Homo sapiens: one gene and its partners. The protein of the gene in region 1 purifies or fractionates together with the protein of each later gene. This does not show direct contact. Each region holds a gene or a part of one and is shown on either strand. Other genes may lie near its edges. The genes, in order: LGI1, EDEM3, DHFR, APAF1, MTR, GAK and LRFN3.

Region 1 (2,724 bases):
TGTAGAACTTTCTGCCCCGCACTAGCGCTGTAGTCAGAAGAGGCCTAAAGCCCAGATTTGTTCAGCTGTCTCTGGATTTTCTAGAGCCAAACTCCTGCAAGATCAGAATCTACTGATAAATGTCAAACTCTTCCCCAAAGGATACCAAGCTAGGCCACTGACAGATCCCACATCATTTTCTGTGATTTTCCAAAATAACTTTCAGGAGCAGTGCCCATGGCTGCACCCTTCTTTCGATTTTTTTAAAGATTCCTTTTCCTTCTCTTCACTCCTGCCACCAGTGACCTAAAGCTCCAGAAAAGTGACAAGTGGCATCTCCTTTCTTTGCAGGGGAAAGGCAAATTATTCTAGAGCAGGAAGCAGTTCAGACTTAGAGCAAAACAATTACAGTAGAGCCATGGGCTACCCAGACCACAACGCTAGCCTTTGGTTATCTAAGATCTTAGATAAACCAAATTTGAAGTCCTGGAATAGCTAACTTGTCCCCAGCTTGGGTTAAAAGCATAGAGATGCTGGTAGGCCTGGCTTTGAATCCCCAACTCTGCCTTCTGCTACCAGAACAGCCTCTCTGAGCTTCAGTTTACTCATGTGGAAAAAGGATAATATTTATCTCTTAAGATTGTTGGGAAAATTAATGAGGTAAATTGAGAAAGCACATAATAGATGCTCAGTAAACAGTAGTTTTCATTAGAATTATGATTAACTCATTTGTGTCAGGGAAACTAATGCTTTCTTTCTGCAAGAAGTAAGAGGAGAACACTCGGGCCATAGCTGTGTGTCCTGAACGTCTAGCGCAGGCTAGATATGACATTAACAACTCAATTGTTGGCAACAAGGCCCCACGAGGCACAAAGGCACGGAACTTTAGGACACTGCTGCCATTGGGCTTTGGAGACCAGCCTTGCCTAATCAACCAAGGAGATCTCTTGTTTCAGGCTGATTTGGGTGGAAGTTGTATGGCCCCAGCCCGCATGTTTACATGCTCCAAAAGAGGATGGCCACACAACTAATCTCTCCTTTGTCTTTTCCCAGGCACATCCACTGTAGTATGCAAGCCTATAGTCATTGAAACTCAGCTCTATGTTATTGTGGCCCAGCTGTTTGGTGGCTCTCACATCTATAAGCGAGACAGTTTTGCAAATAAATTCATAAAAATCCAGGATATTGAAATTCTCAAAATCCGAAAACCCAATGACATTGAAACATTCAAGATTGAAAACAACTGGTACTTTGTTGTTGCTGACAGTTCAAAAGCTGGTTTTACTACCATTTACAAATGGAACGGAAACGGATTCTACTCCCATCAATCCTTACACGCGTGGTACAGGGACACTGATGTGGAATATCTAGAAATAGTCAGAACACCTCAGACACTCAGAACGCCTCATTTAATTCTGTCTAGTAGTTCCCAGCGTCCTGTAATTTATCAGTGGAACAAAGCAACACAATTATTCACTAACCAAACTGACATTCCTAACATGGAGGATGTGTACGCAGTGAAGCACTTCTCAGTGAAAGGGGACGTGTACATTTGCTTGACAAGATTCATTGGTGATTCCAAAGTCATGAAATGGGGAGGCTCCTCGTTCCAGGATATTCAGAGGATGCCATCGCGAGGATCCATGGTGTTCCAGCCTCTTCAAATAAATAATTACCAATATGCAATTCTTGGAAGTGATTACTCCTTTACTCAAGTGTATAACTGGGATGCAGAGAAAGCCAAATTTGTGAAATTTCAGGAATTAAATGTTCAGGCACCAAGATCATTCACACATGTGTCCATTAATAAGCGTAATTTTCTTTTTGCTTCCAGTTTTAAGGGAAATACACAGATTTACAAACATGTCATAGTTGACTTAAGCGCATGAGACACCAAATTCTGTGGCTGCCATCAGAAATTTTCTACAGTACATGACCCGGATGAACTCAATGCATGATGACTCTTCTTATCACACTTGCAAATGAATGCCTTTCAAACATTGAGACTGCTAGAACCAAGCACTACCAGTATCTCCATCCTTAACTGTCCAGTCCAGTGATGTGGGAAGTTACCTTTTATAAGACAAAATTTAATTGTGTAACTGTTCTTTGCAGTGAAGATGTGTAAATAAGCGTTTAATGGTATCTGTTACTCCAAAAAGAAATATTAATATGTACTTTTCCATTTATTTATTCATGTGTACAGAAACAACTGCCAAATAAAATGTTTACATTTTCTTTCATATCCCAGAGGTAATTATTTACAGGAGCTGTTTCATTCTTGTTGTTGGTATGTTGAAGAAATAGTTTTATATAATAGTATTGTATTTGGATCAAGGATTTACGATGTGAAGAATGAGTGAAGATAAAATTATGGGTAATATGATATTGATTACCCATTGATTATGACCAGGTTTATCTGTGGCTGGATCAGCTGATTTTGAACATTCAAAGGTATTTCCAAAGGTCATGGCCTTTAGGGATAATTTGAGGTGAAATGGTGACAAATTAAAAGAAAGGTAGAGAAATTTGCCTACTACAAGAAGACTGATTTGAAATTAAGGACAGCAAGACCCATCCTTTCCTGACTGATAAGCCCAGCTAAAATCATCACTCAGACAATTTCTAGGAGAAAGTAAAATCAAGAATTAGGATCTCAATACCCTATTTAGGGTCTTTCTAAACATCTGACAGCTGATAGAGATTGTAACCTTACAGTGCTTGCCTCAAATGTACCTGTCATGA
Region 2 (3,500 bases), on another chromosome or scaffold:
ATCACTTGAACCTGGGAGGTGGTGGCTGCAGTGAGCTGAGATAGTGCCGCTATACTCCACAGCCTGGGCGACAGAGCACAACTCCGTCTCAAAAAAAAAAACAAAAAACAAAAAACAAAAAAAACATTAAGGGAATGACTGAGGTCTTGAGAAATAAATTTGAAACTGTGTTTTTAATGTTGAAATGTATCCAAAAAAAATCATATCCTAAAAACATTAAGAACTCAAAATGTGCTCTCTCCAAATTTACAATATAAAAGAGAACGAGGACTGTCAAATATAAAACATGTTTTAAAACTAAAAATGCATAAATTACATATATTTAGATGTTCATAGATAACAATGATGTTAGTGTATGAAGATATTTGGTTAATATATGATAAAAAATGGATTCACAGAATCAGTTGAAAAATATTTTAAGCAGAACTAAAGCTAGTCCTCTGCCAAACTTTCCCAACTACATTTTATACGTTGTAATCATAGAAGAAAATCTGCTGACATATTTTAAAATGTAAAAACAAGGTTATAAGGGATAAGTTTCAGGATAATATGCTTAAACTCTTTTCAAATTACAATTTATGTGCAAAATTTTTTTTGAATTCCAGAATTTGCTATTTCATCTACGTTGTTGCACAACAGATCTCCAGAACTTTTCATCTTGTAAAACTGAAACTGCTATTTAATCTTAAGTGAGCCCTAAAACATTTTTAAATAATATGAATCAGCAAACTAAAAAGCAAAATATATTCAGTGCAGAGTCCATGAGGATACAATTAGGACAGAGGCTAAGTAACAATTTCTCTTTTAAGCAATGGTTTTCTTCAGTGTATAAATATTGTAAACATTTTTTTAAATTAAGAGAATAATCTCCCTTAAGACCAGAGATAACATCTTCATGTATATATCCACAATATCTAGCTATATAAAGCACTCAATGATAATTGTTGATGGCACCCAAGGAAGCTGTTTAAATAATGAAGTTTCATAATCTAATTTCAATTTATTCTTATCTGTTCAATAAACTGGTTCCCTAAAAACCACTACCAGAAAGACTATTTTTGCCCTGTTTTTTAAAAACTTCCTTTTAAAAAATGTAATTGTATTGTAGGTTTCAAAATTCCCAGTTGACTGTGCTCACATAATAATCAACTCACATAAATGGTAGGTAAAGATAAGCTTCCTACTTACCATATAGTTACCATAAGCATGATCAAACATTTCCAGTACTTGATTCCTAATTTTAAAAGAGCAGAAATGGAAAAAAAAAAAAAAAAAGGTAAGTATATTCTATTTATTATCTTTCAAAAAGTTAATTCTTCCTCATAAAAAATATACCAATAAAAACAAAAGAAAAATTTAGGTAGAAAGGGACATAAACAGAATCAGAAACTACAACAGCTAGCAGACAAGCTTTCATGAACTCACCACACAGAGCTGAGCCAAACTTTAATGATTACTAGTAATTTATGTACAATTCATCTTATAATTTTTCCTAAGAAAACTGATGAATGATAGATGCCATCATCAGAGAAGGAAATCTGATGCAGAAAAACAATGACCTCTTAACACAATTATTTAACGTATCTGTCTTGAAGCGGGGGTTTTGCTGGACAGCCCTTTAAAAAAACCATTATTATTGCCATTTATTGCTTCCCCTATATGTTCTACTAAGAGAGAGGTACACAGGTGTGTAGTGACATGAAATAACAACGCTTTATGAAGCCTCTGCCTTTGCACTTACATTGAATAAACCACTAATGCCTAGTTTAAGTACATATTTATTAATGTTTGTCATATTTTCAAAAGATACTTTTTATGATGTGCTCTACTCTAAAAAAACTGTCAAAAATCAAATAAATAGTATTCACTTCCAAAATGAGAAAACTAATGCTCAAAAAGAGAGTTGTGTGTTTTGGCGAATTCTGTTTCACAAAATCTCCGTAACCACTGTTTAAAATGGAGATGTCTGATCACTACACCAGAATTTTACTAAATCAAAACCTGTAAGGTTGCGACTGAGGAAGCAGCCTTTCAATTAAGCACTCTCAAGTTCAGGGACTTGAGGACTACAGGAAAAAGTACAAGTTAATTGTATGACCAGACAAGGCCAAATAATTAGCAAAGGAAAACACAGCTTAACAATTTTTTATTAACTTTTTCTTTTTTTTTTGAGACAGGGTCTCACTCTGTCACACCTAGGCTAGAGTGCAGTGGCACGATCTCAGCTCACTGCAACCTTCACCTCCCAGGTTCAAGCGATTCTCCTGCCTCAGCCTCCCGAGTAGCTGGGATTACAGGCGTCTGCCACCATGCCTGGCTAATTTTTGCATTTTCAGTAGAGACAGGGTTTTACCACGTTGGCCAGGCTGGTCTCGAACTCCTGACCTCATGTGATCCACCCGCCTCAGCCTCCCAAAGTGCTGGGATTACAGGTGTGAGTTACCACGCCCGGCCTATTAACTTTTCTTTTACCAAAGTTCCAATCACTGATGGCAAGAATTGAAAAAAGTGTTAAAGAAATTGCTGACTATATTTTTATTTGCCTCCTGTTATACTGCAATTGTCATTTTTAAAACTATAATCACAGATTATGAAATACTGGTAATAATAGAGCTAGCAAACAGAAAAGACCTCAGTTCCAGATCCTGACTATGAACACCAACAAAATCAAGTACACTCAAACTTGTGAACGAATTAAGTCCTGACAACATATGAATAATAACCACTTAAAAACATTTCATTATTTAAAAAAAGACCTTACCACCACTTTGCTAAAGCACTAATTCTTTGTAAGTTTACATATATATATATGTTTATATATATATAATTTTTATATTTGTGGTTTACAGCTCTAGACTCTTATCCTGTCCTAAGCAGAAAAAAAAAAGTTTAAAATGTCCCTTTCAGGAACTCATATCAATGAATGGAAGATGGAAGTCCTCTTTTTTTTCCTTCCCTGAAATGGAATACGAGATTATTACCAAGAAGTAGAAATTCCTATAATTGGCAATGGTAGTGCCTAGACATGTATATTACAAATGACATAAGCTTTAACTTGCTAACTCAACTTTACAAGCATTCAATTTTCAAGACTGTAAGTAAATCATGATTGCATACAAGGAGAATACACTATTTTCCAATCCTTACATTTATGCAGCATATGATGAGCAAATTTTAGAACACATATTTCAAAGTGGAGCTATTTAATATCATTGCTCTTACACATAGAAGCCTAACAAAGTCACATTTAAATACAGAATGGTATAATAATTACTATACTGAACAGAAAAAAAAATTTCCATAATGTTTTATCTATTCAAAAACTGGATTAAAATGTATTGGAAATCAGACCCAGTTCAAAAATTACACCACTCTTCAGTAATTTCTGTAAGTCGGCTTTTTCTCTTTTTTTGAGACAGAGTTTTGCTCTTGTTGCCCGGGCTGGAGTGCAATGGCACGATCTCTGCTCGCTGCAACCTTCGCCTCCAGGTTCAAGCGAT
Region 3 (3,500 bases), on another chromosome or scaffold:
TTCACATGGTGGCAGGAAGGAGAAGTGCCGAGCAAAGGGGGAAAGGCCCCTTATAAAACCATCAGATCTCATGAGAACTTAACTATCACGAGAACATCATGGGGGGTACCACCCCCCATAATTCATTTATCTCCACCTGGTATCACCCTTGACATGTGGGGATTATTACAATTCAAGGTGAGATTTTGGCGGAGACACAGCCAAACCATATCAGGATCTAAGGGGAAGGTCTGGGATCTGGCATGTTAATCATTCTTAGTCTAATAATATAATCACCAAAAAGAATGCAGTATCCTAGGGCACTACTTTCTTGGGAACAGTAGTCATAGTATTCTTTTCCCATGTGTATTGGTGAAGATTCAACCAAAGAAGCAGAACCAGTAGTAGATAGATACAGGTATATTAAAGAGTTTTATTGCGAGGAATTGGCTTACACAATTATGGGGGCTGGGTACGTGAGTCCAAAAATCTGTAAAACGGGCCATCAGAAAGGACAAGCTGGAATTCTCCAGCAGGGGCTGAAGTGGTACAGGTGAAATTTCTTCAGGAAAGCCTCAACTCTACTCTTAAAGCCTTTAAACTGATTGATTCAGCCCACTCAGATTAAAGTCTGACCGGGCACAGTGGCTAACCCCTGCAATCCCAGCACTTTGGAAGGCCAAGGCAGGTGGATCACTTGAGCTCAGGAGTTTGAGACCAACCGTGCAACATAATGAAACCCCGTCTCTACAAACAAATTAGCCAGGCGTGGTGGCATGTACCTGTAGTTTCCAGGAGGCAGAGGTTGCAGTGAGCCAAGATAGTACCACTGCGCTCCAGCCTAGGCAACAGAGTGAGATCCTGTCTCAAAAAAATTTAAAAAAAAAACTGAATTGTAATCACATCTACAAAATGCCTTCAAAGCAACACCTAGATACAGTATCTGAATAACCAAGGACTATATCCTAGTCAAGTTTAACACTATGGGAAGGAAAGAACTACACAGCTATATAGGCTAAGGGGATTCAGGCTTACATAGATTTTCTCCCAAGTTCTTCCTAGAATGGCATAGGTAAAAACCGAGAAGAAAGTGTATAGAATATTTGCATTGATTGCCTCTGGGCGACGGGGCAGATTTGTTGATGTGCATCTTGCTGCCTGCTTCCATCTTCATGCTGTTCTTTCTTCTGGTTGCTAGGATGCTCTGATTATCTCTTTCCTTGGTAGATTTCAAATTCACAGACTATATCGCCATTCCAAGAAACTCTTTAATGATATTTTTGAATACTACTCAAGTTTGTTTATGGCTAGCTTAAGCTCAAACAGAAAGAAATCTCAGTGGGGGAGATGTTCACTTGAGCCAGCATTTCTCCTCGAATATGATGAGTGTAATTTTTTTTTACGACCTTCCTGTGATGCATGTAATTGGGTTTGGTTGCTTCTTCTGTATTTATATATAACATATGTTGGTGTCTTGTGCTTTTTTTTTTAAGGCTGAGAAAATTTAAAGTCTTTGTTATCAAGCATGCCAGGGAAATAGTGATACCAGTTAGTAAAAAATGTTAGAGCTCTTTTTTGTTGTTGTTCTTCCTTCCACTTCCTTACTTGTTGGTCAGTCCCACACATATAGTGAACAGCTGCTGAGTGCCAGGCACTGCAGGGTCCTGAATAAGAGGGCAGAGATTTATACATGGAAATCACTTGCTTATGCCAACTCTAAAGATACTTCATTTTTCACCCCTCTCCCCCAATGTAAGAAGAAACTGAATCCTCAAAGTGATCACAAAATTTTCTACCAAACACTATAGTAATTTAGGGTAAATATTTCTTAAGTAAGGTATTGAGGGAAAATGCTTTTCCAAAGTTGTCTAGACAGTCAAGTTGTGGCTTTAAAAGAACTTGAGGTGAGAAGGGTGGGAATGGCCACTGATGAGTACAGAATGTTTTCTTTTTTGGTGTGATGGAACTGTTCTAAAAGTAGATAGGAGTGATGCTTGCTCGACTCTGAATCTACTAAACGTCACTGAACTATACACTTTAAAAGGGTAAATGTTATGGTGTGTGATTTATATCAATAAAGTGGCTTTTAAAAGTCTTTGGAACCAGCCGGGCACAGTGGCTCACATCTGTAATCCCAGCACTTTGGGAGGCCGAGGTGGGCAGATCACGAGGTCAGGTGTTCGAGACCAGCCTGGCCAACATAGCAAAACCCCGTCTCTACTGAAAATACAAAAATTAGCCAGGCGTGGTGGCAAGCACCTGTAATCCCAGCTACTCGGGAAGCTGAGGCAGGAGAAGCTCTTGAACCAGGAGGCAGAAGTTGCAGTGAGCCAAGACTATACCACTGCACTCCAGCCTGGGCAACAGAGCAAGACTCCGTCTCAAAAAAAAAAAAAAAACCTCGTTGGAACCAAAAATTAAATAAACAAGTTTTACTGTAATGCTATAGTAGCCTGGACACCATCTTTAGAAAATCCAAAATTGCCTCCATTATGTAAGATTTAAATAGTCTCCCATCCACGAAAGTTAACTTAATTTCATGTTATAATTTTTTACGATCTCACTATCAGAATCTCCACAGTGATTAAAACTTCTTGAAGGTGCAGTTCTCTCTCCCCCTACCACTCACACACTTGGAGTAGCAAACACTGACCTGGTTTCTGATGTCTACTATGGCACCTAATAACTTTGTGACTTTAGGCAGGTTACAAGTAAGCCTTGTTGAACCTCTTTCCTTACCTATTAAATGAGATGAATAATGACAACTTTTTTGGGTGATTTTGAAGACTCACTGAAATTTTGTATGTAAAGTTTCTGGCACACAGAAGGGTATAGATATCAGTTCCTACCCCCACCCCCATAAACTTGCTACTTTATATCTTATAGAACATACACATTAATATTAATATTAATGAAATCACAGTGAACAGACTCATGATCTCATTTTCACCTTAACATATTACTTTGTTCTTGTTTCCCTCCATCTTGAGACAAAAATCCACTGCCACCTAAATCAACTCTCTCATCTCCCCTGACTTGATTCTGGATTCCTTTTTTTCTATCTTCACCTTGCTCTGCTGTCCCAACCTTTTAGTATTATCAAAGGCAAAATAAAAATTTTGCGATGAATTCTCTAAATTTAACATTGTGTTTGGGAAGAAAAAATTGCAGTTTAGGGCATACATGCAGACAAGTGACCTTCCATATGTCTGAAGAACAAAGGGAAGGTTAGAGGTTTTATTTAAAAGGAGAAATGTTACTGCTCTTTGAGAAAGTTCATTGGCACTACTAAGGTTTGGGGGAGCTAGCAAGCTCCGACTGGCGAGCAGTGAGTGGTGGGCAAAATCAGTTCTAGAGTTGCAGCAAGTTATCTCAGAAGCTATAGATAAAACTGGTTTCAGGTTACAACAAGCAGTTCCAGCAGTCAGGCTTACAGAGAATTACATTCTTGGAGCAATGTTTTATACCCTGAGTGCTTTTTTCCCCTGGCCCCTCAACTCTGATTTAGTTGGGTATGACAA
Region 4 (3,500 bases), on another chromosome or scaffold:
AATATCCACACTTACTTTGAGGAAGCAGTCACTTGACCCAGTGGCTAAGAGAAGATGATGACTACTGTTGGTGAAATGGCAGCAATTGACTTGCTCTGAGTGCTCATCATAGGTGTGTACTAGTTCCCCAGTCATAGAATTCCAAATCTAAAGAGAAAAGAGAAAAAATTTACAAATATCCATTATTTTCAAAGGGAGAACAGAGGGGCAAAGCAATGTCCATTGCTTTGCAAATGCTATCTTATCCTGTCATAGCAGATTTTCCTAGTTGGACAAGATGCTAATGAAACCTCTCCCCTTTCTAAAATATGGCAATATTTTGCCTTAATGTTTAAAAAAAATTATTTGCAAATATACATATATGTACCTATAGCATAACTAGAGTGTCATGAACACATGACATTTCTTAAGGGCAAGATTTCACATGTTTATATGAATGAAAGCAGGCAGAGAAGTGCTTTAAAGAGGTTAGCATAATAGATTTCTGGTCAGAAGGGTTGAGCCCAAGAGCTGGCTCTACCACTTATGACTTGTGTGTCACAAATCCCTAACTTACCTGCATCTCAGTTCCCTCTTCTGTAAAATGGGGATATCTATACCTCTCCCACACAATTTAAGATATCAAATGAGATAATGAACATGACAAGTGTTCTATGGACTTCAAGGTACCATATAAATAAGTAAAGGCAGATTGCTTAGTTAAAAAAAATAAAGGTTTTATAGTCTGAGAGAAACCCAGCTTTCAACCCTATTACTGTTCCCAGTTTAATGTAAGCTTGAGCAAGAGACTTCATCTCTGAATCTGCGTCCTCTTCTGTAAACGGGATCGACACTTAACCCTGCAAGCTGTAGCAGGAAATTGATAATGTAATATGACAAAGTGTGTAGTATTTATAGCCTCTTATAGTGTTCAGTTTTCAGTAAAAAGTAATCATCAGGCCGGGCGCGGTGGCTCACGCCTGTAATCCCAGCACTTTGGGAGGCCGAGGCGGGCAGATCACGAGGTCAGGAGATCAACACCATCCTGGCTAACATGGTGAAACCCCGTCTCTACTAAAAATACAAAAAATTAGCCAGGCGCGGTGGCGGCCGCCTGTAGTCCCAGCTACTCGGGAGGCTGAGGCAGGAGAATGGCATGAACCCGGGAGTCGGAGCTTGCAGTGAGCCGAGATAGCGCCACTGCAGTTCAACCTGGGCGAAAGAGCGAGACTCCGTCTCAAAAAAAAAAAAAAAAAAACAAAAAAATTAATCATCATTCTAGTTACTATGTAAGACAACTAAGCAGTCTATGCCATATAACAACAAACAAAAGAAATAAATTACCTAATGAACCTTCACTGGGATTTTGACTTTTTAGAGGTACTAATGTCCTTTGGCATTTCCTTTGTATGTTATCAAAGCACTGATTAGAATCCCCAGAGGTCCAGAGAGTTTATCTTATTTTAAAGTTCTTTAATAGGTATTTCTACCTCTGGCTTAGAAAACAGAAACTCATTATTATTTCCTTTTACTCCATGTAGCTCTGACTTTAGAACTGCCCTCAGTGGCCACCTCCAAGTCTGACTCAGAGTCAGAGTAGACACTACAGAGTGAATTAACTGTTGGTTAAGCCACGAGTCCAATCTATCAAGAGGTAGATTTTTCCAAGGTCTCAAATTTAGTCTGGACATTCCATAGCCCTCTTCCAGTAGGTGAAAACTTCAGGAAAACACCCAAGGCAAATTTCTTGCCCACTCCACCTAGCTACATCCAGTACTCCAGATTTAACCCCTTTGAAAAAGGGTTAAAGTAAGGTCTGTCTTCCATATATCAGTGATAACCCCCACAAGCCTTCAGTTTCTCTTGAATTCTATATTAGTATAAATGCTCCTGGTAGAAGCCAAATTTAGGAACAAGAGAATACTTAACAAAAATAAAAATTACTCTCTGGCGGGGCACAGTGGCTCATGCCTATAATCTCAGCACTTTGGGAGTCAAAGGCAGGCGGATCACTTGAGGCCAGAAGTTCAATACCAGCCTGACCAACATGGCAAAACTCTGTCTCTACCAAAACTACAAAAATTAGCTGGGCATGGTGGTGCACACCTGTGATCTCAGCTACTCAAGAGGCTGAGGCATAAGAATCAATTGAATCCTGGAGGCAGAGATTGCAGTGAGCCGAGATTGTACCACTGCACTCCAGTCTGGGTGTCAGAGCAAGACTCTGCCTCAAAATAAATAAGTAAAAATTACTCTGTTTACTTTTCTCTATTTATGTTTTTAGACCAGTAACGTAATTATTAGTTTGTTCATCCACCTGGTTTTCCACTGAATATATAAGCCAGTTCATAAGCAAATTAAAAAAATTGGGGTTGCATTTTAAAATTGTATCTTACAACAGGAATCCCCAAGTTTGTGCAGCAACACTCCTAATCACAATGCACTCAAAGATTTCAACTGATATTTAACCCATGGACTTGTCTATTAATGGAAGACAAACTCACTAATTTGTCATTGCTTTTCCCCACTGCTTGTTTAATCCTGAGGTGATCAACCTAGGCATTTTTGCTGGTGTTTAAAAATAAAGAATTTTCAGGCCACGCACAGTGGCTCATACCTATAATCCTAACACTTTGGAAGGCTGTGGCAGGAGGATCACTTGAGCCCAGGAATTGGAGTTTACAGTGAGCTATGATCATGCCACTGCCCTCCAGCCTGGGTCACAGAGCAAAATCCTGTCTCTTTAAAAAAAAGTAAAGAATTTTCAGATAGTGTTAATTTACAATGAATCAGGTTAGTAGATCAACAGGTGAGAGTCCTTTAACTCTACTTACTCTGGTCTCATGATCATGGAAAAATAAAATGAATTCTGTTGTGATTACAACTCAAGAGGAAAAGATTTTCCTACCTTCACTTTTTTATCCACTGAGCAGGTTGCTATAAATCTGTCATCTGTAGAGAATGCACAACAAAGCACTTCATCCTCATGAGCCTTGATTTCTAGAAGTTTCTCTCCTGTTTCAGCTTTGAACACCTGCACAAGTAACAATAAAATATTTTTTATAATAAACTGCTTAACTACTGGTCATCATTCAATAAAAATCTTTAAGTGAGTTTAATCATTGTCATTTTGCAAAACAGAAAGGAACCTTGGCAAAGCTACTCCCAAAATCAGAATTTCTGTCAGAATGTGTATGCCTTCACATAACTAGAGAACTATTCACTGTTACATGTTTGTAAATATCAATGAAAATGTTACAGGATCTTTGGGGTGTTGATTTTCTGGCCAGAAACTTCTGTGGCCGGTGGCGCCTTTGCCCAAGTTTTGCTTGGGCCCACTGGTCTTGTTTCACCCACTTGGCCTGACAGGCTGCATTCAGCTCACACTACCAGCCTGGGTCCCAAGCCTGCCAAGGGCGAGTCAGGCGTGGAACAGCGAGGCGTGTGTGAGTGAGCGTGGGGTCCAGCCACTGCGCACAGACGTGCTGACTGCTGCAGCGGGGCAGGCAGCTCCAGGTGCC
Region 5 (3,500 bases), on another chromosome or scaffold:
ACCTCTGAAGTTAGCCCTGTTCGATCTCTGCTCCTTGTCAGACTACATTAAAGAATCTAGATGTCTTCTACACATTGTCCTTCTCTTCCTCACAGTGTCTGCCTTGATGACCAAATCAAAAATTGTTTTATTGCATTACTGCCTGAGTGTGTGATATTTTAGCAGAATCTGAGCCATGAGCTTCTTAAGTAAAGCCTTCTACTCACTGGTCACAGTCTAGCTTCTCTATGGCTTAAGAGTAAACCTGTTTGATAAAGCTATAAATGGCATTTATTCCTTCCTTCTTGCTGCTTAGAATCTCACTGAGTTTTTCTTCTACTCCAACTGAAGAAGGTGCCACATCTCACCTGTTGGTGGTTCTCACCTGGCTTTATATTAGCATCACTAAGGGGCTTTTACAAAACACTTGCTGAGACCCCATCTCCAGATTCTGATTTAACTGGTTCAGGGTGAGGTGTTACTATTATAAAAAACAAGCAAACAGAAATCCCTCCAGGGTATTGTAATGTGCAACCAGAGTTGAAAGCCCTTCCTGATGGAGTAAAGCTGCCATTCCGTTGTTTTACTGAACTTCTATTCTGGATCTCTGAAATCCACCAGCACGATTGAGGCTTTATTAGTGTGTCTGTCCCACAGCCCTGGTGAGGAGTAAGACAGAAGCTTGGTGAACCTTACGTGATATGAGATATGACCTGCTCCTGACAAAGGCCTGTACACCAATGCCGTGTTCACTCTGAGAGTCATTGTTTAATCAAGTGACAGAGGTTGAGTATCTGTTAATGTGGCACAGATACTGTGCTAGACGCCATGAGAACAATTTGACAAGGGCTTCATCCTTATGGAGGTTAGAGTTGATGACTCTGTTTTGGTTCTAGAAATGAATTCCTGTCCTGTGAGGATGCACCTGCTTGTCCCACAAGCAGGGCTGTCTTTGGTATACAGCTGGGCCCTACACCCTACTCTCCTGTGGGTAACATACTGTTCACTTCAACCTGCCCTGCTTGGCCAGATAATATTCATGGCTCAGATGAGGAATGACCAGGACCTTGACTTCTTCATCTACCAACCAGACTAGGTTACTCAGTAATACTAGTAGCATTGGTCGCCCCTGTGCCTTCTCTCTTAGTGAGCTTAGATGAGCCATGAACCTAGAGCCTAGAACTCTATTGGGCTGTCTGGTGAAGGGTAGACTTTAAAAGTTCAAGCCTAAAGGCAGCTGCAAATGGGCTGTTTCTGACCAGTTTTTTCTGACATACATCTCAGTCTCAACCTTAACCTTTTCACTCTAACTGAAGGCAGAGGAAGTAAGCATTGAGAAAATTCCATTAAGGAAGACGAAAGCTCGCCACCTTCCCTAAAGCCTGGGTGCAGTGAGGCCACAGAGACCACTTCCTGTCTCCCTTTCCCTGGGCCATTTTGTCTGCTAAGTCCTGGAGGCACTTCCCTCCCAAGTAGAGGTGAAGTCTCACCCCACCAGCTGCAGAGAGCGATTAAAGAGACCAAAGAAAACAGTTGAAAAAGAATACCAAAGTAGTAAGTGATCAAAAGGCTAGATCTAAGAGAGAGTTCTTTTCATAATTCCCCTACTCCTCATTTCTGTTGTCTAGGGCCTCACTAGATGCACTTGACCTATGTCCGTGTCCCTACCCCCTCATCTCCACAGAAGTCTGCAATATAGATTGCAGTAGGGTTGGCCATTTTTCAAGAACATTTTTCGCGTTCATTGAGAATTGACCTTCAGAATTGTGACTTATTTTTTCTTATCTCTGGAGTGATAGCAAGTAATCATTTTTTAAGAGTAGATTTGATTTTTCATACAACCAGAAATAATTCAGGATGTAATTTGGTGAATACCCTGTGTTGAGGTTGTAAATTTGATCTGAAGACAGTTTCCATGACAAAGTTCAGAAATACTTTGAGTAAAAGCAGCATTCATACATAATGTTGAGCACCTACTTTGACAGGCACTGCTCAGGGCACTGGGGATAAAGCAAGACTGGCATTCTATCTAGGGGAGAGGAGTTTACCAATTAACAAGTAATAAAACAACGAAAAATACTAAAGATGTTGCCAAAATAATACAATTTCTGGAAAGAAATACTCCGAAGAAGAATGGAGGAGGTGGGGAAGGGTGGAAGTGGCTGGTTTAGAGAGGGTGATTTAAGGTAGGCTCTGAAAAGGGGGCACTTGGGCAGAAGCCTTAGTTCTGTGAAGCACAAAGCCATGTCATGGTATGTTCTGGTAGTGGCAGCAATAAATGAAAGTTGCTGAGGGAGGAACAAGCTTGACGGGTTTCAAAAACACCAAAGGAGCAATGTAGGAGGTGCGGAGTAGAGGAGAGGGCAAATGGTAGGAGATGAGATTGGAGATGGAGGCTGAGATTCTGAGGCTTTTGGGAAGCAGCTGGGGGATGAGCCTTGCCGGAGTTAGTGTTTTGCCTTTTAGGGACATTATTTTGAAGGTAAAGACTAATTTGTATTTATGACTTAAGACACATGTTAGGCCAGTGTTAAAATGGGTGAAGGTGAGGAATAAATGCATATCCTTGAATATGCTTAGAATGTTTTTGCAAGAAGATCTGAGAAAGCAATGGCAGTGTTTCCTGGGTGATAGGTTGTGACACTGCTGTCAGGTCAAGAGAGGAAGGGGCACTTACATGTTAATCTCTTCTTTAGTAGTATTTGATTTTTTATCATATGCATGTATTTTTAGAAGCTTTTTCATAATATACCATATGTGTGTATATGTTTAAGGTTTGATTTTTTGCAGAAAGAGTATAGCTGCTGTGTTTGTGAAAACACAAAGAGATCTTTAAACCAGTCTCTCCTCTGAGATAATTTGATAAGTGATCGGAAGCTGCTTGGCATTTAGATTTCTGTGAAATCCAAGCATTGACACTTGAGTGTTTTCAGTGAGTGAAATGTGCTCTAATGTATAACACTTAATATTTTAATATTAATATTTTATTAAAATAAAATAACAGGTATTTAATATTAATATTTTAATAGATAATTTTTCTATTTCAAACTACATCTTTTGCTCTTTTCCCTAGGCAACAGAAACAGACACAAAAATCAGAGTGTGCACCCGGGCCTACCATCTGCTTGTGAAAAAACTGGGCTTTAATCCAAATGACATTATTTTTGACCCTAATATCCTAACCATTGGGACTGGAATGGAGGAACACAACTTGTATGCCATTAATTTTATCCATGCAACAAAAGTCATTAAAGTAAGTGTAGGCATGTTCTCTCCCAAGTCATGGCTCAAATTTGTCCCATGGGTCTAATGAATGGTTAGAACTAACTTATATATTTATTGGCTGATGAAATGTTAACATTCTTAGTTAGTAAATTGTTTTTCTGAAATGTAGGAGACCTTATTTTTTTTCTTTAGTAGAGTTTTAACTTGTGTAACAAACAGACTGGAGAACATAACAGAGCCTGATGAACTCGCTTGAACCCAGGAGGGTGGAGGTTGCATTGAGCTGGGATCACGCC
Region 6 (3,500 bases), on another chromosome or scaffold:
TTCCTCACGGCTCTGCAGGCTGGAAGTCCAGGCGCAAGGCGCCGGCAGATCTGGTGTCTGGTGAGGTCCAGCACCTTCTCGCTGTGTCCTCACAGGGCAGAAGGGGTGAGGGAGTGCTCTCTGGGGCAGTAATCCCAGTCCTGAGGGCTCCACCTTCATGGCCTAGTCACCCCCAAGGAGGCCCCACCTCCTAACACCATCACCTTGGGTATTAGGATTTCACACAGGAATTTTGGAGGGGACACAGATTCATTCTGTAGTGTTGTGAATTATGTGTGTATTGAAAATGTTGGTATGTGGTATTTTACGTTAGAAAAGTGTCTGTTTCTTAAAAGAGGCCGAGTTGATTAAAAAAGATACTCAGATCTGCCTGTAGTGGTCCTGTACTGACCTCACTGTCCCCCGGCACTCTGTCCCGTCCCCAGCGTGCTCCGTGCATCCTACACGCATCCTGGTGAGAGGTGTCCTCAGCCCTTTGCATGGACGCTGGTGGGCTGTGTGGGGGAAGGTTGCCCAGCTCTGCTCATGGGGCCTGCAGGCTGCTCGGGGGCACCAGACTCTAGTGTCCCAAGTCCTCAGAGTGTCCCCTGGGGGTTTGTTTTATTTGGACATTTTGATGGGTTTAAAAAGTGTCAAGCTTTGATTTGTGCCTTTCTGAGTAGCGAGTTTGGTAATGCTTATTTGCTGCTCAGCCTCCCCTTCTGGCATTGCACATTCATATCCTGTGCCTGTTATTTTTTTATTCTTATTTTTTTGAGATAGAGTCTTGTTGTGTTGCCCAGGCTGTAGTACAGGGGTGTGATCTCAGATCCTGGCAACCTCCTCCTGAGAGCAGCCCCCGGGCAGAACTCCACCCCCATGACCCAATCAGATCTCACAGGAGAGCACTCACTATCCTGAGAGCAGCCCCTGGGGGAACTCCACCACCACAACCCAATCAGATCTCACAGGAGAGCACTCACTATCCTGAGAGCAGCCCCCCGGGGGAACTCCACCCCCACGACCCAATCAGATCTCACAGGAGAGCACTCACTATCCTGAGAGCAGCCCCGGGAGGAACTCCACACCCATGGCCCAGTCAGATCTCACTATCCTGAGAGCAGCCACGCCATGGGGAACTCCGCCCCATAATCCGGTCACCTCCCACCAGGCCCCTCCTCCAACATTGAGGGTCACAAGTGAACATGAGATTTGCATGGGGACGCAGATCCAAACCGTATGTGCTGTTATGAATAAAGATCCAAACCGTGTCCGCTGTTATGAATAAAGATCCAAACCGTATCCGCTGTTATGAATAAAGGTGCCGAGAACATTTTTTTTCAAGTCTTTTTGTGGACGTGTGTTTTTCTTTGTCTTGGGTAAAAAATACCAAGGAGTAGGATTGCTGATTTACAGGTTGGATTTAGGTTGAACTTCACATGAAACAACCAAACCTCCTTCCACGGTAGCTGCACCATTTTACATTTCCACCAGCTGCAGTGGAGAGTTCCTGGCTCTCCACTTCCTCACCAGCATTTCTTGTGGTCTCTCATTTTGATTACATCCATTCTTGTGAGTGTGCAGTGGTGTCGATCTCATTGTGATTTCATTGGAATTTCCCTGATGATGATGTTCAGCAATTTTTTTTTTTTTTTTTTTTTGAGAGGGAGTCTTGCCCAGGCTGGAGTGCAGTGGCTCCATCTTGGCTCACGGCAAGCTCCACCTCCCAGGTTCAAACAATTCTCCTGCCTCAGCCTCCCAACTAGCTGGGATTAAAGGCATGCACCACCATGCCCAGCTAATTTTGTATTTTTTAGTAGAAATGGGGTGTCACTATGTTGGTCAGGCTGGTCTCAAACTCCTGACCTCAGGTCACCCGCCGGCCTTGGCCTCCCAAAGTGCTGGGATTACAGGCATGAGCCACGGCGCCTGGCCTTTTTGTCCATTTTTTATTGGGCAGGGAGTTTCTGCTTACTCTGGATACAGGTCTTATGTTTATATATTTATATAATTTATGTGAGAAAGAGAAGGCAAGCCTTAGCTGTGGTCACTCTGCTGTCCCAGGCCAGGCTGCCTCAGGGAACCTGGGCCTTGAGATTTGACCTGGCTTGAGCATTTGATGTCTCTGTGCCTCCACTCCCCACCCCTCCACTCCCTGCCCTTGAGATGAGGTCTTGCTTTGTTGCCCAGGCTGGAGTGCAGTGGCATGATCACAGCTCACCACAGTCTTGAACTCCCGGACTCAAGCGATCCTCCCACCTCAGCCTCCCAGGTAGCTGGGACCACAGGCACGCACCACCACGCCTGGCTAATTTTTAATTTATTTCTGGTAGAGATGGAGTCTTGTTATGTTGCCTGTAGGCTGTTCTCAGAACTCCTGGGCTCAAGTGATTCTCCCACCTCGGCCTCCCAAAGTGCTGGGATTGCAGGTGTCAGCCACTGTGCCTGGCCTGTGCCTGTTCCTTAATTGGCAGAGTGTGTGCTGTAAAATGTATATAACAGGGTCTTGGAGGTACCCGACATGCCATTCTTTAATGTCTTATACGTTACTATTATTTTTAAATAAACTGTATTATTTTGAGTTCATTGTAGGTTCCCACGCGGCTGTGAGAAAAGATGGAGATCTTTTCTATTTTAGACCCTTGCCTGGTTTCCCCAGTGGTGACGGTCGGGATGCTAACCCTGGTGCAGGTGAGGCTGTGGAAGTCTCCATCCCCGTAGGGAGCCCTCATGCCACCTCTCAGCCACGCCATTTCCTTACCCTCTGGAAACCTCTAGTCTTTGCTCTGTCTGTGATTTTGTCATTCGAAGGATGCAGTGTAAGGGGAAGTGCAGAATTCTTCAGGTAATTGTGTGTCAGTAGCTTGTTTCCCGTGGTGAGACTCCTCTGCGTGAGTGTGCACGGCTTGCCCAGCCAGCCACCCGTGGAAGGACATCTGGGCTGTTTCCTGTTTTGGCTACTACAGATAAAGCTGCTGTGACACTTGCGTATAGGTTTTTGTGTGAATATACGTTTTCATTTCTGGGATAAATGTTTAAGAGTGCAGTTGCTGGTTCATGTGTGGTAATTATGTGTTTAGTTTGTTAGAAAACTGCCAGATTGTTTTCTTGAGTGGCCATACATTCCCACCAGCAATGTAGGAGCGTATCAGCCTGGTTAGGCTGCCATAACAAAATACTCCAGACTGAGTGGGGAGCAGTAGAAATTCACTCTCGCAGTTCTGGAGGCTTGAAGGCCAAGAGCAAGATGCTGTCAGTGCTGATTCCAGGAGAGGCCTCTTTTGCTGGTTTGCAGATGCTGCCTTTTTTTTTTTTTTTTTTTTGAGATGGAGTCTCGCTCTGTCACCCAGACTGGAGTGCAGTGGCGCAATCTCAGCTCACTGCAACCTCTGCCTCCTGGGTTCAAGCAGTTCTCTTGCCTCAGTTTCCTGAGTAGCTGGGACTACAGGCGCCCACCACCATGCGCCGCTGATTTTTGTATTTTTAGTAGAGACGGGGTTTCACCATGTTTCCCAGGTTGG
Region 7 (3,500 bases), on another chromosome or scaffold:
TAGTGAGACCCCATCTGTAAAAAAAAAAAAGAAAAAAGAAAAAATGTCCCATAGTGGGGACTTGGAATCATCCCCCACAAGAAGCCGTCTTAACCCCAGCAGCGTCAGTTCCCATCTCTGCTGACAAAGCCCTCATTTCTATTTCCAGCTTCAGCCTCAGACCAGGGGTCCTGCACCCTCCTGAATGCCACATCCTGGACATCCTCAGGGCCCCCTACACCTACCAAGTTCCCCACTGGCCATATCATCTTTCCCAAACCTGCTCCTCCTCCCTGGTCCTATATGAGGGCAGTCCCCACCATCTTCCTGCCCCACCCCATGGCCCCGCAGCTCCATAACCCACCGCCTCAGCTTCCCACAGTTTCCCGAGTGTCTCTGTCAACCCACTCCCTTTTCTTGTTCCCTAGCCCAGCTGGTCCAACTTCGTCCTCACCCACCCAGGTCCCTGCCCCAGCTTCCCCTGGGGCTCCCAGCTTCAGTCTTCCCCTTGGGTCCACCCTACTCATAGCACTAGAAGGATCTTCCTGAAGCCCCAAACTGACCCCATTCCTCCCTTGCATACAACCCTCCATGGCTCCCTGGTATCATCAGGCCAGAGTCTGAGCTCCTCAGCCTGGAGGTCCTAGACCCTGCTCAACCCTCCTGCCTCACCTCTACCATAGCACCCCCAGTGCCCAGGGCACACCACCACCTTGCTTGTGCTGTGCCCTCTGCCTGAAAGAGCTTTCCTTCTGCTCTTTGCCCAGTTATCTCCTTCATATGTCATTCTCAGATCACATGTGTCCTCCTCCAGGAAGCCCTCCCTGACCACACCTGGGGCTGAGCAAGGGTACCTCTTCTGGACTGTCACAATCCCCCAGGCTTCCCTCATCCCCACATCCCTGGTCACTCTGTGCTATCACTGTCTGGGGATGTGTCTGTCTCCCATTTGACTTTAGGCCCCTGCGGGCAGGGCTCAGGGCTATCTGGATCACCACAGCATCCCCCAACCCAGGGCATGCTCAGAGCCGACACGCAGGGAACATCTATTGTCTGAATGGATCGCCATCCTCAGCCTCCTCCGGGGTCCTCAGACTGAACTGGGCGGGGAGGGGGTGTCTCCCCAAAGGAGGCATTCCCCAGCTCCAGACCCCTGCTCCGTCCCCCAACCCCCATAGACAGAGACGAGGGCAAGGGTCTTCGCCCAAGCTTGGAAAAATAGGACTTTCTTGTTTTGCCCCGGTGTCCCCGACACCCTCCCCATCAGAGTTTTAAAAACCATGAGCGATTTGGTGAGTTTGAGGCCAGGTCCCACAGGGTGTCCGGGTCCTGCTGTCCGTGGGGCCAGAGGACCCTTAGAGGGGGGGGCGCCTGGCTAGGGTCCCACAGGTTCGTGGCCGGGCCCCCAGGGCTCGCAGTCCAGCTGGACCACGGTGTGGGCCCTGAGCGCCGCGGGCTCCGGGGCGGGCGGGGCGGGCGTGGGCGTGGGGCCCAGGGCGCCGTTGGTCTGGGAGCAAACGCTGCTAACAGGCGCGGGAATCTTGGCCTTGCCGGGGGGCTGGCCGCCGTGCACCTTGTAGCGCATTAGCAGCACGAAGATGAAGACCAGTACCGAGGCTACGATGACGCCGCCCAGCGCGATGATCATCGTGCCGCCCAGGAAGGGAGCGTGCGGCGCCCCGCATGGCCGCAGCGCAGGTTCGGTGGAGAAGCGGGCGCAGCCCACAGGCCGCGTGGCCGTGAGCCCCGTGGCGCTGTCCTCATACACGGCGAGCACGCACAGATCGTAGGTCCGGCCTGACGCCAGGTCCGTCAGCAGGAACGAGCGGCTCTCCGCCGGGATCATCCTGCAGGGCAGGCAGGTGGGGGTCAGGTCTCAGGCTGCCCAGCCCCCAACCTGTGCTTCCCCCACCAAACTCCCTGCGGGGCTAGACTTCCCACCAGTCCACTCCTTCATTTCATTCTACCCAATGAGCTCCCTCTCACCAACATCCCAATTCCCTTTGGTCTGACATCCCATTCAGCCACCTGACTGATACCCCTCCAGTCTGTTGGCCAATTTCACTCTAGCCCACCCTCTCACACGTCCTCATAGCCTGCTGCCCATTTTCACTCTAGTCCCACCACCCAATTTCTCTAACAGCTCACCACGTGAGTTCTTCCAATCCATCCTGTTTCTTTTCTTTCTTTCTTTCTGTTTTCTTATAGACAGGGTCTTGCTCTGTTGCCCAAGCTGGAGTGCAGTGGCATGATCACAGCTCACTGCAGCCTCTGACTCCTGGACTCAAGCCATCCTCCGGCCTCAGCCTCCTGAGTAGCAGGAACTACAGGTGTGCACTACCATGCCCAGCTAATTTTTAAATTTTTTGTAGAGACAGGCTCTTGCTATATTGCCCAGGCTGGTCTCAAACTCCTGGCCTCAAGGCAGTCCAGCCTCCTGCCTTGGCCTCCTTAAGTGTTGGGATTACAGGCGTGAGCCACCACACCTTGCCGGTTTCATTTTATACCCAACTGCCCAATTTCCCTTTTGCACTGCCCACTCAATTTCCCTCCAGCCTGCAGCCCAGCTCCGCTCTAGCCTCCCTGCCCAATTTTGCCCCAATCCTCTGCCTGATTTCACTCTGGTCCCACTGCCAGTCATCTCTCCAGTTCACCACCCAATTCTGCTCTAACCCTGTCCAATTTCCATCTAATTTAATCCTTTTGTCTTCTAGCCACCCCCATCCAATTTCCCCCACATTTTACCTCCCAGTCTCCTCCAGACGCTTGCCAATTTCCCTCTGGTTCCCCTATTTCCTGCAGCCTATGCCAAATTTCCCTTTTCCAGCTGCCTGATTTTCCTCTAGTGTACAGCTAGGATTCTCTCCAATCAAACCACCTGATCTCCCTGTACCCCTGTTGCCCGATTTCCTTGTAACCTGCCAATAAATGTCCCCCTAGCCCTATTGCCTTATTATGATGACTGTATTGATAGCCTGTTTTCCAATGAGTCCTGTCGTCTGATTCCCTTTTCATTAAACTAATGTGCCTCCGTCACTACTGCTTTCTTTTTCTCCCTGTTGCCTTATTTCTTTCCGGCTCTGTCACCTGCTTCTCTTTTATCTCTGTTGGCTGGTTTCTATTTATCTTTTTCTTTCTTGTTTCCTTTTAATCCTTACCACCCAATTTCACTATAGTTTCTTTTGTAGTTGGGCACCCTGTTGGAGAGTTGACTTATCACCTGTTTTATTCCTAGGCTATTCTAATGAGAGAGGTACAGGGAACTCCGTGGCCGCCTGGGGCAGGGTGACTGTCTAGGACAGCATTCATCCCATTCCCCACCTGGCAAGGTGGCCAGGACTTGTGTGACTTTTTTTTTTTTTTTTTGAGACGGAGTCTCACTCTGTCACCCAGGCTGGAGTGCAGTGGCACAGCCTCGGCTCACTGCAACCTCCGCCTCCCAGGTTCAAGCAATTCTCCTGCCTCAGCCTCCTGAGTAGCTGGGACTACAGGCGCGTGCCACCACACTCAGCTAATTTTTT

What was found.
Region 2: the proteins of LGI1 (region 1) and EDEM3 purify together in Homo sapiens (affinity purification with mass spectrometry; one large-scale study listed by BioGRID and IntAct). This does not show direct contact.
Region 3: the proteins of LGI1 (region 1) and DHFR purify together in Homo sapiens (affinity purification with mass spectrometry; one large-scale study listed by BioGRID and IntAct). This does not show direct contact.
Region 4: the proteins of LGI1 (region 1) and APAF1 purify together in Homo sapiens (affinity purification with mass spectrometry; one large-scale study listed by BioGRID and IntAct). This does not show direct contact.
Region 5: the proteins of LGI1 (region 1) and MTR purify together in Homo sapiens (affinity purification with mass spectrometry; one large-scale study listed by BioGRID and IntAct). This does not show direct contact.
Region 6: the proteins of LGI1 (region 1) and GAK purify together in Homo sapiens (affinity purification with mass spectrometry; one large-scale study listed by BioGRID and IntAct). This does not show direct contact.
Region 7: the proteins of LGI1 (region 1) and LRFN3 purify together in Homo sapiens (affinity purification with mass spectrometry; one large-scale study listed by BioGRID and IntAct). This does not show direct contact.

The regions. Positions count from the first base shown.
Region 1 is NC_000010.11:93,795,936-93,798,659, forward strand, and holds the end of LGI1 (leucine-rich glioma-inactivated protein 1 isoform 1 precursor), read left to right. Parts: exon of another isoform or gene 1-1,032; coding exon 1,033-1,868; 3' UTR 1,869-2,224; downstream 2,225-2,724. UniProt on the Homo sapiens protein: Regulates voltage-gated potassium channels assembled from KCNA1, KCNA4 and KCNAB1. It slows down channel inactivation by precluding channel closure mediated by the KCNAB1 subunit.
Region 2 is NC_000001.11:184,748,359-184,751,858, forward strand, and holds part of EDEM3 (ER degradation-enhancing alpha-mannosidase-like protein 3 isoform 2 precursor), read right to left. Parts: intron 1,235-3,500; coding exon 1,189-1,234; intron 1-1,188. UniProt on the Homo sapiens protein: Involved in endoplasmic reticulum-associated degradation (ERAD). Accelerates the glycoprotein ERAD by proteasomes, by catalyzing mannose trimming from Man8GlcNAc2 to Man7GlcNAc2 in the N-glycans.
Region 3 is NC_000005.10:80,644,984-80,648,483, reverse strand, and holds part of DHFR (dihydrofolate reductase), read left to right. Parts: intron 1-3,500.
Region 4 is NC_000012.12:98,679,790-98,683,289, reverse strand, and holds part of APAF1 (apoptotic protease-activating factor 1), read right to left. Parts: intron 3,014-3,500; coding exon 2,888-3,013; intron 148-2,887; coding exon 16-147; intron 1-15. UniProt on the Homo sapiens protein: Oligomeric Apaf-1 mediates the cytochrome c-dependent autocatalytic activation of pro-caspase-9 (Apaf-3), leading to the activation of caspase-3 and apoptosis. This activation requires ATP. Isoform 6 is less effective in inducing apoptosis.
Region 5 is NC_000001.11:236,847,292-236,850,791, forward strand, and holds part of MTR (methionine synthase), read left to right. Parts: intron 1-3,052; coding exon 3,053-3,232; intron 3,233-3,500. UniProt on the Homo sapiens protein: Catalyzes the transfer of a methyl group from methylcob(III)alamin (MeCbl) to homocysteine, yielding enzyme-bound cob(I)alamin and methionine in the cytosol. MeCbl is an active form of cobalamin (vitamin B12) used as a cofactor for methionine biosynthesis.
Region 6 is NC_000004.12:922,317-925,816, reverse strand, and holds part of GAK (cyclin-G-associated kinase), read left to right. Parts: intron 1-3,500. UniProt on the Homo sapiens protein: Associates with cyclin G and CDK5. Seems to act as an auxilin homolog that is involved in the uncoating of clathrin-coated vesicles by Hsc70 in non-neuronal cells. Expression oscillates slightly during the cell cycle, peaking at G1.
Region 7 is NC_000019.10:35,942,874-35,946,373, reverse strand, and holds part of LRFN3 (leucine-rich repeat and fibronectin type-III domain-containing protein 3 precursor), read right to left. Parts: intron 1,827-3,500; coding exon 1,355-1,826; 3' UTR 1-1,354. UniProt on the Homo sapiens protein: Cell adhesion molecule that mediates homophilic cell-cell adhesion in a Ca(2+)-independent manner. Promotes neurite outgrowth in hippocampal neurons.